4 linked regions of the Homo sapiens genome follow. The protein of the gene in region 2 purifies or fractionates together with the protein of the main gene of each other region. This does not show direct contact. Each region holds a gene or a part of one and is shown on either strand. Other genes may lie near its edges.

Evidence for each region.
Region 1: the proteins of TSPAN10 (region 2) and VEZT purify together in Homo sapiens (affinity purification with mass spectrometry; one large-scale study listed by BioGRID and IntAct). This does not show direct contact.
Region 3: the proteins of TSPAN10 (region 2) and ALG11 purify together in Homo sapiens (affinity purification with mass spectrometry; one large-scale study listed by BioGRID and IntAct). This does not show direct contact.
Region 4: the proteins of TSPAN10 (region 2) and ELOVL5 purify together in Homo sapiens (affinity purification with mass spectrometry; one large-scale study listed by BioGRID and IntAct). This does not show direct contact.

What each region holds. Positions count from the first base shown.
Region 1 is NC_000012.12:95,276,220-95,280,306, reverse strand, and holds part of VEZT (vezatin), read right to left. Parts: intron 1-4,087. UniProt on the Homo sapiens protein: Plays a pivotal role in the establishment of adherens junctions and their maintenance in adult life.
Region 2 is NC_000017.11:81,639,411-81,644,360, reverse strand, and holds part of TSPAN10 (tetraspanin-10), read right to left. Parts: intron 2,102-4,950; exon of another isoform or gene 2,055-2,101; 5' UTR 1,949-2,054; coding exon 1,913-1,948; intron 1-1,912. UniProt on the Homo sapiens protein: Part of TspanC8 subgroup, composed of 6 members that interact with the transmembrane metalloprotease ADAM10.
Region 3 is NC_000013.11:52,014,811-52,018,897, reverse strand, and holds part of ALG11 (GDP-Man:Man(3)GlcNAc(2)-PP-Dol alpha-1,2-mannosyltransferase), read right to left. Parts: intron 1-4,087. UniProt on the Homo sapiens protein: GDP-Man:Man(3)GlcNAc(2)-PP-Dol alpha-1,2-mannosyltransferase that operates in the biosynthetic pathway of dolichol-linked oligosaccharides, the glycan precursors employed in protein asparagine (N)-glycosylation.
Region 4 is NC_000006.12:53,289,951-53,294,037, forward strand, and holds part of ELOVL5 (very long chain fatty acid elongase 5), read right to left. Parts: intron 2,014-4,087; coding exon 1,826-2,013; intron 1-1,825. UniProt on the Homo sapiens protein: Catalyzes the first and rate-limiting reaction of the four reactions that constitute the long-chain fatty acids elongation cycle.

The sequences.
Region 1 (4,087 bases), on a different chromosome or scaffold from region 2:
TGGGAGCACACAGGGTAGATCTATGGAACAGCAAGAAGCTCAGTACGGCTGGGGCCAGGTAAGCAATGGGGAGCCACTGAAGGGTTCTGAGCAGAAGCATGACATAATCTGATTTATGCGTTAACAGGCCCATACTGTCTGCTGAGTTGAGAGATTATAGGAAAATGAGAGTAGAAGTGGAGAAACCAGTAAGGAAGTTACTGCAATATTCCAGGTAAGCATTAATGAGACCACGGTGGTTAGTGGTGGAAGGTGAGCAGCAGATGGACTCTGGATACATTGTGAAAGCAGAACTAACACAATCTCTTGACTGATTGGTATTGAGAGAAAAAGAGTTAACAAGGATGATTCCAGCATGTTGGGTCAAGATAACTGCAAGAATCAAGTTGGTACAGTTTACTGCGGCTTTTGAAAAGACTAAAGGCCAGGCGCAGTGGCTCCCACCTGTAATCCCAGCACTTTGGGAGGCTCACTTGAGGCCAGTAGTTGGGAGACCAGCCTGGGAAACACAGTGAGACCCCTGCCTCTACAAAATATTTTCTTAAAAATTAGTCAGGCATGGTGGCACATAACTGTTGTTCCAGCTACTTGGGAGGCTAGGGTGGGAGGATCGCTTGAGCCCAGGAGTTCAGGGTTACAGTGAGCCACGATTGCACCACTGCACACCAGCTGTGTGACTGAGCAAGACCTTGTCTCTAAAGACTAATTTGTCATCCAATCACTGTCACATTACCCACTTAAACCAGAACTCAGAAATATGTATTTCTTTTTTCCTGTTTGTTCTTTGGATAAGGAAAGCTCCTCTGGATAAGGAGATAACCATAGCTGATAGGTAAACAGAAAATTTTGATTTAAAGCATTTCACAATGTGTGCATTTATTTTTTCTAGAGCAGGAAACAGATGACTTCATAAATTTAAAAAACTAGTTAAAAACTTAAAGGAAAAGAGAGGGATAAGGACTGTGTTCTAGGGACTGATTGAGTATCCCTAATCCAAAACTTTGAAATGAAATCCCAAATGCTCCAAAATTTGAAACTTTTTGAGCACCAACATGGCAGTCAAAGGAAATGCTCACTGGAACATTTCAAATTTCAAATTTTTGGATTAGGGATGCTCAACCTCAATGTGTAATGCAAATATTCCAAAATCTGAAAAAATCCAAAATCCAAAACACTTCTAGTCTCAAGCATTTTGGATAAGAAATTAATTAATCAATTAATTTATTTATTTATGTTGAGACGGAGTTTCGCTCTTGTTGCCCAGGCTGGAGTGCAATGGCACGATCTTGGCTCACCACAACTTCCGCCTCCTGGGTTCAAGCGATTCTCCTGCCTCAGCCTCCCGAGTAGCTGGGATTACAGGCATGCACCACCACACCTGGCTAATTTTTTGTATTTTTAGTAGAGACGGGGTATCTCCATGTTGGTCAGGCTGGTTGCAAACTCCCAACCTCAGTTGATCCGCCCGCCTTGGCCTCCCAGAGTGCTGGGATTACAGGCGTGAGCCACGGTGCCAGGCCTGGATAAGACTCACGCCTGGATAAGAAATATTCAACCTGTATTTTATTTATGTCTCCTCAGGCTACAATTTGGAGGTTGCTTTTCTTTCTAAAGGTGCAATACTTACTATCACTAAACTTTCCTGAGGGAAGATACGGGAACAATAAAAAATAAATCCAAAATGTATTTTCTTTAGAGGGGGCAACACACTTTTAAAAATTTAACTTACAAAATCTATTTTTAAATTTCTTATCTGAATAACGATACAGTGGTAACTACAGAAGGGGGTAATACACAGTCTTTGAACATTACAGGGGTTTTCAACAGTTTGCAAAGTCTATAGAGCTCCTCAAGATAAGGCTCCTTTCAGAGCCTGATAAATGTGGTAACTGTAACACAATCATTGAGTTTGGTTACAGGTTAGTTATATGTAAAAATAAAAGAAATATAAAAATACTATTATAGTTTGATTTGTAAAACACTGTGAGTGAGCAAAAGGAATCTAGCTATAATCACCATTGTTGGAAGGTAGGATGGGGATACAGCAACAGAGAACAAGTCTCACATTTCAGAGCAGGCCATATCAGATAGAATTTTAAAAATCAGCTAACATTCATTAATTGCTTACTCTACACCAGGCACTGAACTGACAAACATCTAATCCTTTGGAGGCAAGCATTGCAATTATCCCATTTTAATAAACACAGAAACAATGATTTGCTCAGGACCACACAGTAGTCAAATAACGGAGCTAGAGTGAAACCTGGAAAATCTGACTCCACAGGGTCCACAACTTCTCTTTGCTGCCTATACTTAAGCTAGAGTACAATTCAGGATTTAATAAGCTTTTAAAAACAGTACATCAACAGCATAAAGAAATAAATCTCCAAGGCATCTTGATGAGTTAACAAAAAGTAATTTAAAAGGAAATGAAATACTATAATTCTTTCTCCAAGTCCTTCTTAAAGAATAACAGCTATTACCATTTGGGGGTACCCATTATATGTCAAGCCCTGTTCTAGGTATTTAATATGTCTTCTCATTTAATCTAATACCTTATAAGGCAGGGATGGTAACTCCTTTTCACAGGTGACATAAGTTCAAAGAATAACTTATTCAAAGGCAAATGGCTAGTCAGTCAGGGCTAAAATATAAACACAGGTCTGCTCCATTTTCCACATTAAGAATCTCTTAAATTGTACTTTGAAAAAAATCTTTATTTTCCTTAAAGAATAAAGCAAGGTTAGGATATTAAATTCGAAAGGGTGTGAAAGTATCTATAGTCCCACCACCCCAAAGAGTAGCTATATATATCTTGGTATTTTCTCCTCATTTTTTTTTTTAAACAGGGTTGTGGACATATTGCATATACACTTATGTATCCTGATTGTTTCACTGGCAACAGATGTTTCTCCAAGTTTTTACAGAATTTTCACGGGCAAGCTGTAGCTGCTACACAATGGTTCACCATGTGGCTCTGGCATGACTCACACAGCCATTCCTCTATTTTTGAACTTTCAGGCAGTGTTCCATTGTGCACTATTATAAACACAAAGTGAATAAGCAGCTTGGTATATAAAGTTTAACTATGTTTTAAATAATTTCCTGCAGTTTGTAGAAGGGGAATTACAAATTCAAAGGATAAATCATTAAAAAGGTTCTTTACATGTCAAGTTGCATTCTGAAACAAATAACTTTAGATAACTGAGGAAAGTACTGCAGCAGCCTAAGTATGAAATGATGGTGGCTGGGACTAGCATGGTGGCTGGGACTAGGATGGTGCGGGGGCGGGGGTGGATATAGAAAAAAGTGGATGGGTTTAAAATACATTTTCAAGGTAGAAGTGACATAAGAATCTGCTAACAGACTGGATGTGAGTGGGCAAAAAGAGGGACAAGAAAGATGGTGTCCAGGTTTTTTGTGGTGCCATTTATTGAGATGGGTTAGAAGGGGAGTAGGAATAAGCCAAAGCAAATTTTACGTAATAGGAAAGAAAGAAAACAAACAAGATTATTAGAACATTTATGTTGATTTAGAAAATGTAAAAGATATGGAAGTCAATACAGTCTCAAAACAAAATGGATCTTGATAAATGCTAACAACAATACTTGCACTAATTTTCACGGTATCAAGGGAAGTTTTAAAAACTAAAAACAAAGAAACATCTAAAGAGAGCTTACTAAATACTTAGTAGGAACTTAAGACATTTGGATCAATGTCTTAAAAATACTACTGGAGGCTGGGCATGGTGGCTCATGCCTGTTATCCCAACACTTTGGGAGGCTGATGTGGGCAAATAGTTTGAGCTCAGGAGTTTTAGACCAGCCTGGGCAACACGGTGAAACCCTGTCTCTACAAAAAATACAAAAATTAGCCGGGTGTGGAGGCATGTAACTGTAGTCCCAGCTACTCGGGAGGCTGAGGTAGGAGGATCACCTGAGGCCTGGGGAGGTTGAGGCTGCAGTGAGCTGTGATTGAGCCACACTGTACTCCAGCCTGGGCAACAGAGTGAGACTCTGTCTCAAAAAAAAAAAAAAAAAAAAAAAAGAAAAAAATTAAAAGAAAAAGAAAAACAAAAAAAATTTGT
Region 2 (4,950 bases):
TGCCCTGCCCAACAGGCTCCCAGGACAGGGAGGAGGGTGCCCAAGAGCCCAGGAAGACCGCCTGGAGGCTGCAGGGCCTTCAGAGGGGACCCCCTGGCCCACTGGCAGGAAAGGCTTGCTGGTCTCTCTCTGTGGGGGAAGAGGCAGCCCCGCAGGTGCCCAGTTCTGCCGGGAAGAGTTTTTTTAAAAAGGAGAATAAGAAGCTATGGCCGGGCTGGACGTTGTGGCTCACGCCTGTCATCCCAGCACTTTGGGAGGCTGAGGTGGGTGGATCACCTGAGGTCGGGAATTCGAGACCAGCCTGAGCAACGTGGAGAAACCTCATCTCTACTAAAAAAAAAAAAAAAAAAAAAATTAGCCGGGCGTGGTGGCACACACCTGTAATCCCAGCTACTTGGGAGGCTGAGGCAGGAGAATCGCTTGAACCCAGGAGGTGGAGGTTGCATGAGCAGGAGGCAGAGGTTGCATGAGCAGAGATCGCGTGACTGCACTCCAGCCTGGGTGACAGAGCGAGACTCCATCTCAAAAACTAAATAAATAATAAAAAGCAGCCATGGCTGTGTGCTGGGCAAGGATCCCATTCCAATCCAGTTTCACCAGGAAGAAGCTGATCACAGCATCAGGCTCTCAGCTCACTGCAGCCTCAAACTCCTGGGCTCAAGCCATCCTTCCTCCTCAGCCTCCTGAGTAGCTGGGACTACAGGCACTGCAACCATGTCCTGGTAATTTTTTTTTTTTTTTTTTTTTTTTGAGACGGAGTCTCGCTCTGTCGCCCAGGCTGGAGTGCAGTGGCGGGATCTCGGCTCACTGCAAGCTCCGCCTCCCGGGTTCACGCCATTCTCCTGCCTCAGCCTCCCAAGTAGCTGGGACTACAGGCGCCCGCCACTACGCCCGGCTAATTTTTTGTATTTTTAGTAGAGACAGGGTTTCACCGTTTTAGCCGGGATGGTCTCGATCTCCTAACCTCGTGATCCGCCCGCCTCGGCCTCCCAAAGTGCTGGGATTACAGGCGTGAGCCACCGCGCCCGGCCGTCCCGGTAATTTTTTAAAATTATTTTTTGTAGGCCGGGCACGGTGGCTCATGCCTGTAATCCCAGCACTTTGGGAGGCCGAGGCGGGTGGATCACGAGGTCAGGAGATCGAGACCATCCTAGCCAACATGGTAAAACCCTGTCTCGACTAAAAAAAATTAGCTGGGTGTGGTGGCATGTGCCTGTAATCCCAGCTACTCAGCAGGCTGAGGCATGTGAATTGCTTGAACCGAGGAGGCGGAGGTTGCAGTGAGCCGAGGTTGTGCCACTGCACTCCAGCCTGGTGACAGAGCGAGACTCTATCTAAATATATATATATATATATATATATATAATATTTTGTAGAGACAGGGTCTCGCTACATTGCCCAGGCTGGTCTTGAACTCCTGGGCTCACGCAATCTTCCCTCCTCAGCCTCCCAAAGTGCTGGGATTACAGGAGTGAGCCACTGTGCCCGGCCCCAGAGGAGGGTTATTTATCACCCCCAAGACCTCAACAAGTCACTAGAAGCAAAAGGACAGGCTGTCAGTGCCTGGTTGGCCAGACTGGGGCCACTGGGGGCCAGAGGCCGTTGGAGGCTGGCTGCAAGGGACATTTGCCTTCACCCCCTCCTGCACCCTGAGCCAAAGATTGCCCCCAAGGCCCTCAGGGAGATCTGGCAGATCCCTTGACCAGAGGCCAGCATGGGGCTGAGAGAACTGCGCAGTGGGGAAGGGGGAGGGGGCTGCCTAGAACCACCCCCCTCAACCCAATCTCAGCATTGAGGTGTGGGGTGGCACCAGGGGCAGGGGTGGGTGTGAACCCAGCCCAGGGACTTCCCTTAGGACTTCAGGGCTGGGGACATCTCCAACCTCAGGGCAAGGCCACTTGGCATGGCTCACCTGGGACAGTAAGGGGCTCCTCTCCCCCTCCTCCATCCTTGACGCTGGAACAGAAAGCCCCCAGCACAGGCGCCGGGAGAGGTTCGCTGGCTCCTCTGTGGCTGGGCTGCTGGGCTGGTCCTGACTGCGGCCCTGGGCTAGTCTGTGAACAGTGCAGCCCTGGGCATGGGAATGGGGGAGGTGCGAGCCCTACCCAGATGCCGGAGTCACAGTTGAGTCATGTGAAGAATCACATTTTAGAGCTTAAGGAGGCCTCTGCTTGTGGAGATATATTTCTCCCCAGCCCTGGCTCTGTGGGTCCCCTAAGCTCAGCGCAGGTGTGACTCAGGCAGGCATGTTTGGGTGCCAGCCTTGTGGCTCTCACTGCAGCCCCCCATGCGGACTTCAGCTCTGCAGGGTCAGCAGCCGCTCCATCAGCTCCCAACCAGGGAATCAGACCCTGGTAAATTGGTTCACAACCCCAATCCCAAGAGACCCATGGGCAGCCCCAGCGCCAATCTATCCCCCGGCTTGTTCACTGCACGAATGAAACAGCGTCCCCCCACCAGATCACCTCCTTGTTTTTGTTTTTGAGACTGAGTTTCGCTCTTGTTGCCCAGGCTGGAGTGCAATGGCGCAATCTCGGCTCACTGCAACCTCGCCTCCCGGGACTACAGATGTACGCCACCTTGCCTCACTCATTTTTGAATTTTTTTTGTAGAGACAGGGTTCTGCTGTGCTGCCCAGGCTGGTCTTGAACCCCTGGACTCAAGTGATTCTCCTGCCTTGGCCTTCCAAAGTGCTGGGATTACAGGCTGGAGCCACTGTGCCCGGACTCAGCCACCAACACTCAGCAGTCCAAAGAGGTGGTCTGGGTGGTGCAGCACAGCAGGCAATGTACTGATGGAGCAGGCAGAGGGTTTCAGGCGCGCGTGAGACGCCTGGGTGGGAGCACACCGGGCAAGTTTTAGGAGGAAAGGTCACCTGGCTGTGTGGGGCAAGCGGAGATGGGGGTGGGAGGGAGGTCCATGAGGTGACAGGGCTGGATCAGGTGAGGCCTTGAAGGCCACTCTGAGTCTTCAGATCTTCCTCGGAGAAGTGGGATATGCTGCAGGTGGGAAGTCGGGGCGAGGACCAGAGCTGCAGGCTGAGCTTCTGGGCTCCAGCTTCCCTTCACCTCCCCAAAGGTGACAAACCCAACCTCATGGGCCCTGCAGCAGCTCCACAGCCAGGGTCACGGTCACAGGGACTGTCCACGGCCTCCAACTCAGTCTGTTCTAAGGATGGGTAACCTTTTTTTTTTTGAGACAAGAGTCTCGCTCTGTTGCTGAGGCTGGAATGCAGTGGCACGATTTTGACTCACCGCAACCTCTGCCTCCTGGGTTCAAGCGATGCTCCTGCCTTGGCCTCCTGAGTAACTAGGATTGCAGGCGCCACACCTGACTGATTTTGTATTTTTAGTAGAGATGGGGTTTCACCATGTTGGCCAGTCTGGTCTCGACCTCCTGACCTCAAGTGATCTGCCCGCCTCCTCCTCCCAAAGTGCTGGGATTACAGGCGTGAGCCACCACGCCCGGCCAAAGTCTGGGTAATCTTTTAATGAAACGATCATCATCTACCACTGTTATGGCTGAATTGTGCCCCTTACATTCTTATGATAAAGTTCTAGCCCCCCGGACCTCAGAATGGGACTTGGAGACAGGGCCTTTAAAGGCCATTAGGGGCTGGGCGCGGTAGCTCACACCTGTAATTCCAGCACTTAGGGAGGCCGAGGCAGGTGGATCATGAGGTCAGGAGATTGAGACCAGCCTGGCCAACATGGTGTGACCCTGTCTCTACTAAAAGTACAAAAAATTAGCTGGGCATCGTGGCGCATGCCTGTAATCCCAGCTACATGGGAGGCTGAGGCAGGGGAATTGCTGGGACCCAGGAGGCAGAGGTTGCAGTGAGCCGAGATGGTGCCGCTGCACTCCAGCCTGGTGACAGAGCAAGACTCCATCCCTAAATAAATAAATAAGTGCCATTAGCGTGGGCCCTAATCCAACATCCTTACAAGAAAATTGGGACACACGGTGGGACACATGGAGAGACACGAGGAATGTGTGCACAGAAGAAAAAACATGTGAGGTCTCGGGGAGAAGGTGCCATCTTCGAGCTAAGGAGAGAGGTATAAGAAGAAACCTGGCTGGGTACAGCGGCTTATGCCTGTAATCTAAGCACTTTGGGAGGCTGAGGTGGGTGGATTGATTGAACCTAGTAGTAGTTAGAGACCAGCCTGGGCAACATAGCAAGATCCCATCTCTACTAAAAATACAAAAAGTTAGCCAGGTGTGATTGTGAGCACTTGTGGTCCCAGCTACTGAGGAGGCTGAGGTGGGAGTATCACCTGAGCCTGGGAAGTCGAGGCTACAGTGAGCCACGATTGTGCCACTGCACTCCAGCCTCGGCGATGGGAGTGAGACCCCAGTCTTTTCTTTTTTTTTTTTTTTTGAGACGGAGTCTTGCTCTGTCGCCCAGGCTGGAGCGCAGTGGCGTGATCTCGGCTCACTGCAAGCTCTGCCTCCCGGGTTCACGCCATTCTCCTGCCTCAGCCTCCCGAGTAGCTGGGACTACAGGCACCCGCCACCACGCCCGGCTAATTTTTTTTTTATTTTTAATAGAGACAGGGTTTCACCATATTAGCCAGGATGGTCTCGATCTCCTGACTTCGTGATCCACCTGCCTCGGCCTCTCAAAGTGCTGGGATGACAGGCGTGAGCCACCGCGCTGGGATGACAGGCATGAGCCACCGTGCTGGGATGACAGGCGTGAGCCACCGCGCTGGGATGACAGGCGTGAGCCACCGCGCCCGGCCAAGACCCCAGCCTTAAAAGAAAAAAAAAAGAAGAAAACAAAGGAGAAACCACGTCTACTGACACCTTGATCTGGGATTCTAGCTTCCAGGACTGTTAGGAAGTAATTCCAGGCCGGGCATGGTGGCTCATGCCTATAATCCCAGCACTTTGGGAGGCTGAGGCGGGTGGATCACGAGGTCAGGAGATCGAGACCAGCCTTACCAA
Region 3 (4,087 bases), on a different chromosome or scaffold from region 2:
AAAGTTGAGAATCAATGTGATATATACATTAAAAAAATTACAAATTAAAGTCTGCTTTTACATATCTACTTTATATATTAGTAACAAAGAGAGAATTGTCTTTAACGAGTCTGCTAACAAAATACTCAAGTATGAAAATTCTAATGCTGCTAAATATCCAACATTGAAAGGATAAGTCCCCTTTAGTTCCAATTCCTGTAGCATGTTACCAATTGAACATACTTTAATCAGCAGTAAAAATCAACATTGAACCCCCTTTCTCCTGACTTAGTATATATGTTATGGGATTAAAACAAATTTAACTATTAATCTAAACAAGACATGATTAAGAATGTGTTATATACTGTCATTTTGAGGGTCAGATGCCAAAAAAAATATGTCTTTTGAACGATCAATATTCCACTAAAGTCTGGTAAGATAGTAAATCTTTTTCATTCCATCACTTCACCTCAAGTAGAACAATTTCTGGGATAAAGGAATGGAACTTAGATTTCTCCACTTCTATTTCCAGTTCTGTATTTGCTCTATTTACATGATCTAATACTACTACCTTCCCTTATGTACCTCTGAATGAGCTGCCAAAAACCCACTAATGTTCTACTTAATACTCATTAGTAAACTCATTCACAAAGTGACTGTTAAAAGGTTCTCCATTGCTGTCAGGTCGATTGAAGCTCTGCAAAAGCAAGGGCCCAGGCTTGCTCATACCATGTCCCCAATGCCAAGTACGATGCCTGGCACAGAGAAGGCATCCAATGAATATATGACGGATGCAAAAGTTTATTACGTCTTCAGATGTTGCTTAAAATGTGTTAAAATAAAATGCCAAGGTGCTTTTCTTTTAGGGTTGCCAATACAGTTGGAATCTAACTTAATATTTTTCATACTCTGCCTATCCTTTATAAAGGATTTGAGGAGGGCTTATAAGATTTAAAAACAATAAAATGCCAAAAGTTAAATAATAAAAAGTCAGGACCAGTGAAAATAGAATAAAGATGGTGTGTATGTTGGGATGGTGGTTGATGATGGACACAGGTATGCAGGCTGTATTTACATACATAGTAGTGAATAGCAGACTGGGCTCTGGGCTGCTCAGTAGCCTAGGCAAATAGGGGATGTTTTGTGTAGTTACACAGTGTATTACTTCGTTTTCACACTGCTGATAAAGACGTACCCAAAACGGGGAACAAAAAGAGATTTAATTGGACTTACAGTTCCATATGGCTGGGGAGACCTCAGAATCACGGCAGGAGGTGTAAGGCACTTCTTACAGGGCAGTGGGCAAGAGAAAAACGAGGAAGCAGCAAAAGCGGAAACCCCTGATAAACCCATCAGATCTCATGAGACTTATTCATTATTATGAGAATAGCATGGGAAAGACCGGCCCCCATGATTCAATTACCTTCCCCTGGGTCCCTTCCACAACACATGGGAATTCTGGGAGACACAATTCAAACTGAGATTTGGGTGGGGACATGGCCAAACCATATCATTCTGCCCTGGCCCCTCCAAATCTCACGTCATCACATTTCAAAACCAATTATGCCTTCCCAACAGTCCCCCAAAGTCTTAACTCATTTCAGCATTAACCCATATGTCCACAGTCCAAAGTCTCATCCGAGACAAGGCAAGTCCCTTCTGCCTATGAGCCTGTAAAATCAAAAGTAAGCTAGTTACTTCCCAGATACAATGGGAGTACAGGTATTGGGTAAGTACAGCTGTTCCAAATGGGAGAAATTGGCCAAAACAAGGGGGTTACAGGGCCCATGCAAGTCCAAAATCCAGTGGGGCAGTCAAATTTTTAAAGCTCCAAAATGACCTCCTTTGACTCCAGGTCTCACATCCAGGTCATGCTTAAGCAAGAGGTGGGTTCCCATGGTCTTGAGCAGCTCTGCCCCTGTAGATTTGCAGGGTACAGCCTCCCTCCTGGCTGCTTTCATGGGCCGGCGTTGAGTGTCTGAGGTTTTTCCAGGCACACGGTGCAAGCTGTCAGTGGATCTACCACTCTGGGGTATGGAGGACGGTGGCCCTCTTCTCGCAGCTCCACTAGGCAGTGCCCCAGTAGGGACTCTGTGTGGGGGCTCCAACCCCACATTTCCCTTCTGCACTGCCCTGGCAGAGGTTCTCCATGAGGGCCCTGCCCCGGTGGCAAACTTTTGCCTGGGCATCCAGGCGTTTCTATACATCTTCTGCAATCTAGGTAGAGGTTCCCAAATTTCCATTCTTGACTTCTGTGCACCCGCAGGCTCAACACCATGTGAAGCTACCATGGCTTGGGGCTTTCACCCTCTGAAGCCACAGCACTAGCTCTGCATTGGCCCCTTTCAGCCACGGCTGGAGCAGCTGGGACACAGGGTACCAAGTCCCTAGGCTGCACACAGCACAGGGCCCCTGCACCTGGCCCACAAAACCACTTTTTCCTCCTGGGCCTCCAGGCCTGCCATGAGAGAGGCTGCCATGAAGGTCTCCGACATTGCCTGGAGACATTTTCCCCCATGGTCTTCAGGATTAACATTAGGCTCCTTGCTACTTTTGAAAATTTCTGCAGCCAGCTTGAATTTCTCCTAAAAAAATGGGTCTTTCTTTTCTACTGCATTGTCAGGCTGCAAATTTTCTGAACTTTTATGCTCTGTTCCGCTTTTAAAATGGAATGCTTTTAAGAGCACCCAAGTCACTTCTTGAATTCTTTGCTGCTTAGAAATTTCTTACACCAGATACCCTAAATCATCTCTTTCAAGTTCAAAGTTCCACAAATCTCTAGGGCAGGGGCAAAATGCCTCTAGTACCTTTGCTAAAACATAAGAGGAGTCACCTTTCTCCAGTTCCCAACAAGTTCTTCATCTCCATCTGAGACCACCTCAGCCTGGATTTCGTTGTCCATATCACTATCCGCATTTTGTTCAAAGCCATTCAACAAGTCTCTAGGATGTTCCAAACTTTCCCACATTTTCCTGGCTTCTTCTGAGCCCTCCAAACTGTTCCAGCCTCTGCCTGTTGCCCAGTTCCAAAGTCGCTTCCACATTTTTGGGTATCTCTTCAGCAGCACCCCACTCTACTGGTACTAATTTATGGTACCAAGTTCATTTTCACGCTGCTGATAAAGACATACTCGAAACTGGGAACAAAAATAGGTTTAATTGGATTTACAGTTCCACATGGCTATGAGGCCTCAGAATCATGGCGGGAGGCATAAGGCACTTCTTACATGGTGGCAGCAAGAGAAAAATCAGAAAGAAGCAAAAGCAGAAACCCCTGATAAACCCCATCAGATCTCGTGAACTTACTCACTATCACGAGAATAGCATGGGAAAGATTGGCCCCCATGATTCAATTACCTCCCCCTGGATCCCTCCCACAACATGTGGGCATTCTGGGAGATAAAATTCAACTTGAGGTTTGGGTGGGGTCACGGCCAAACCATATCACATAGTTTTCACTGCCCACATGAAAACATACAAATTCATCAGAAAAGTAAATTTTGCTTTTTTTAGATACAGGGTCTCACTCTGTCACCCAGGCTGAAGTGCAGTGGTGCAATCATAGCAATCACTGCAGCCCCAAACTCCTTGGCTCAAGCGATCCTCCTGCCTCAGACTCCTGAGAAGCTGGAACTACAGGTGCATGCCACCACACCCAGCTAATTAAAAAAATGTTTTTTGTAGAAATAGGGTTTTGCTATGTTGCCCAGGCTGGTCTCAAACTCTTGGCCTCAAGTAATCCTCCTGCCTTGGCCTTCCAAAGCATTGAGATTACAGGCATGAGCTGCTGCACCTGGCCAGAAGTAAATATTTTATTGATATTTAGTTTTGACATAAAGTTCTCATGTGGGATTTCCTATTGTGAACAAATCCTCATTTGTTCCTATTGTGAACAAATCTCATGTGGGATTTCCTACTGTGTACTTGAAGAGGTATTTGACTCTATTTGAAATCCCACATGAGCACTTTATTTCAAAGCTGAAATAATTGGTCTAAAATAATTTGGTCTTTATATTCTTTATACACCTTTATACTCTTAAAAATTTTACTGAGGATACAATAGAGCTTTTGTTTACATCAGAGTTTCTCATCCTTGACACTACTGACAT
Region 4 (4,087 bases), on a different chromosome or scaffold from region 2:
GTCTATTACCTCTCTATGTACTCTAAACTGTGAGTTAAAAATGTAGTTTCCCTATTCTGTATATTTCTTAAATTTCTGTATTCAGTGCTTAGTCACTGCTCAAAGTCTTCTCTTCTCACCAAGCTATCAGAGGAAAATCTGTACCTTCTATTACAATGTGTTCAGAACCCCCCACATCCACTCAGATGCACACAGCTGTACTTTATACAGTGTTTTTCTTCTCTTTACCAGGGAATCATCTGTTTAAGAGAGGATAAATAATGAAATTATAGCTATATTTCTAGGGCTTAAGAAACATTTAAGGCAAATGCTTAAGTTCTCTAAAAATCACATGAAATATTTTTCTCTATTAATATTGCCATGTATAATAATAAACTCTGTAAGAGTTCTCTTAAAGACATGGCTGTATTATCTATCAATTATGGAAAAGTAAGCAGTTCACTCAGAAACCTGACAGCTTGCTGTGGTTTTGTCCCTTGAACACAGAAATGTGCATAGTGCTGGGGCCAGGAGTCACTCCTGTGCACTTCCCCTGGCTCCAGTCCTGAACTCTCCATCTTGGAGTCTAATTAAACTGACTTCATTCTAGAATAGGACAGAAAAAAAAGCAAAAAAAGGAGTTGTAAGCATTTCTTGGCATGTCAAGCATAAAAGTAATGCTAGGAACATCTACCATTCTATTCAGAATATCTGTACCTTGGCTTATGAAACATACATGGGAGAACAAGACACAGATATCCCACAGCTGCAACACCTCTGATAATCAAATATGCCTGCACACGCCCACACTCCTGCACACCACCACACGTAGACAGGGAGACACCATCATGGCCTGAGGCTGATGGAGAATTCATTTTGACCCCTGAACACTAATTTTAAGATTCATGTTTCTATCTCTCCTCTTCCTCCCACCTCTACCTTCTTCTTTACTACTCCTTGAAGAACTAAAACCAAAATGAAACCCTGAAAACCTATACAGGAGTGCCTGTATAGGTTTTATCCAGGGCTTAATTCTCCAGAAGAGTTAGAAATAGGTTGGTGCTGTAAGAATGAAAAGTGGGTAGGCTTTCCTGGAAAAATGTACACAAACTGCTTACCACCAGAGGGAAGCTTTCCTCCCCCTTTTAGCTTTAAAGGCTATAGTGTTACCCCTTCAAAATAGGGAGAAGAGAAGGGTTGATTCTGATTTTTCTTTCATTTTTAAGCTATAACATTTGCCTTTGAGATCATCAAATGTGATTTTCAACATTGCAGTGATATAAAATAACTGGGCCTGAACTCAGACAGACAATTCAAAACCTAAATGCAGATCTCACCAGTCACACTCCTCTTAGCTTTTAAAAAACAACTGAGATTTGACAAGTTATCCAATCAGAGAGGGTGATGTGCCACAAAACATACCAAACACAAGTGCCACCCACTTCCTTCCTCCCCTACCTTCAAACAAGAAGCAGGCACTTATTAGATGCTTAATAATAAAATGCTTTCACATGTGTTTTTCACATTTTGTTCATTTTCCACTCTGTATTTTGCTTGCATGAGAGTATTTCTGAAAATACTTTAATTTTGAATATCATACGAAACATAATAGAAGAATCAATAACAAAGGCTTCTATTTTAGATATTCTAGAAGGCATACTTGTACAAACAACTCTGACATTTTGAAAAATCGATTTTAAAACACACTCATAACGCATTAAGATACTTGCTTGCCCAGTTGTCTCTACACCCCAAGCGGCCACCTTTCCTCATTTAGGAATACAATTTAGGACAGCAATATGAGTGCATTTATGTGAAAGGAAGACTGTGTTAACCTTTGACTTACCTCACAGAACATATACAGAGACAGCAGTGTGAGTCCAAGGTTATACACCACTAAAATCCCCCGGCAAGAGAATGGCTGTTTATTCCTCATGTATTTTGGTCCCAGCCATACAATTAGTAAATATATGACAGAGCAGATAAATGTGGGTATATAATTGTCCAGAAGAAACCATCCTTTTACTCTAGTATCTGAAAAATTAAAAAAAATTAATGATATATAAAAACATTCACAACTTTTCAAACGTTGAAAAAATTTCTCTAACCATGATGATATAAAAGTCACCTGGTATTCATGTTCTTAATTCCAATAAAGCAATCAGGAGAGGAGGCATGGATTTTCAATACATATCAAACAAGGTGAAGCTCCTTGTTACATGCTCTGAATAACAATGTATTATTCATGATTTTTGCTCAGTAAAATAATAATACAAATATTCTTTCCAAAGAACTTAAGAAGAAAACAAGGAGAAGGCTACACTTCCCATTAATTGGATTTATTAACCAGGTATACCAGATTACACATAGGGTGATAAAACCCAAGAAATGGCAGTCATTGAACTCTGAAGTCCTCCATCTCAGCTGTGTGTCAGTCGGCAAGTGTGGCCAGCACATGCAGACTCAGAAAACGTGCTGCTTAGCCACGTTAGTGAAACTGGCACTAATTAGAAAGGCAGCCTTTGCTATGAGTGTAATGGTCAACAGCAGAGAGGACAATGATTTAAAAACAAAACAAGGGCTGGGTGTGGTGGCTCATGCCTGTAATCCCAGCACTTTGGGATGCCAAGGCGGGTGGATCACCTGAAGTCAGGAGTTCAAGACCAGCCTGGCCAACATGGCAAAACACTATCTCTACTAAAAATATAAAAATTGGCCAGGCATGGTGCTGCACACCTGTAATCCCAGCTACTTGGGAGGCTGAGGTGGGAGAATCGCTTGAAATTGGGAGGAAGAGGCTGCAGTGAGCTGAGATCGTACCACTGCACCCCAGCGTGGGCAACAGAGTGAGACTCCGTCTCAAAAATGAAAATAAAAACAAAACAAAACATGAAGGTGAAGCAGCAATGATCAGATAAATGCCTATTTAAAGGGCAGTATTTAACAAACTGAGGAGTAGTAGCATGAGAGCGAAGACCTAGGCGGATCCAGAGGAGATACTGGTATAGGAAGGGCCTCTCCTGCCCCTATTCCTTTTCTTAGGCAGGGAGGAGGGAGAGGGAAACAGGTCAGCCGCCAGCAGCAAACTGACAACCTCTTCTTGGATGGCGGGAAACTCCTTGGCAGCCAGAGCCCCTAAGTGTTATGTGTCCCCTGAAAGATTCAGCTTCATACTCTGGCTGACCCCAGGAAGCTACCTCTGAAAAGCATGCTCCCCTTTGAACCCTGCTATGATGTTCCCCGAAAACCTGTGGCTCCTCAATCTTAACTACCCGCCAAGGCTCACAACTCCAGAACATGAGGCACATGCAGCATTCACCTACTGCGTCTTCAGAGAAGCAGCAGTTGGGAGGACAGCCTTTGCCATTTCTTTAATTTTTTTATTATTCATTTATTTATTTATTCTGAGACGGAGTCTCACTCTGTCGCCCAGGCTGAAGTGCAGTGGCGTGATCTCAGCTCACTGCAACCTCTGCCTCTAGGGTCCAAGCGATTCTCCTGCCTTAGCCTCCAGAGTAGCTGGGACTATAGACACACACCACCACACCCCGCTAATTTTTGTAATTTTAGTAGAGACCAGGTTTCACCATATTGGTCAGGCTGGTCTGGAACTCCTGACCTCAGGGGACCCACCTGCCTTGGCCTCCCAAAGTACTGGGATTACAGGAGTGAACCACCACACCCGGCTCTGCCCTTTCTTTGACCCCTCCCAGACTGGACCATCTTGCTACTCTCTCCAGTCGTTTTCACCTTGATTTCACAGAACAAGAACAGGCTCAATAAAGCATATGTCCACGTGGGGAACTGTCAGTCAGTCTTCCTTTCTTGCACTGTACACACTAAACTTTCCCAGCATTTCTCTCATGGCTGGCTTGCTTTGGCTTCAGAGGGACATGCCCTCCACACCCTCCCCACTAGTTATGCTATGGTCACGGAGGGTGTTACTGTCAGTCCGGCAGAACTGGTTGTGCTTAGAAGTCATTCAGGGAAATGGCTGGCCCCAGGGACTTTAAGGGGATGCTTAACACCTTTTGTTCTCAGCTTTGGGCCTTGGCTGTCAATTTTAAGAAAACCAGTTCCCACTTAGCAACTAACATCAGACTGTTAT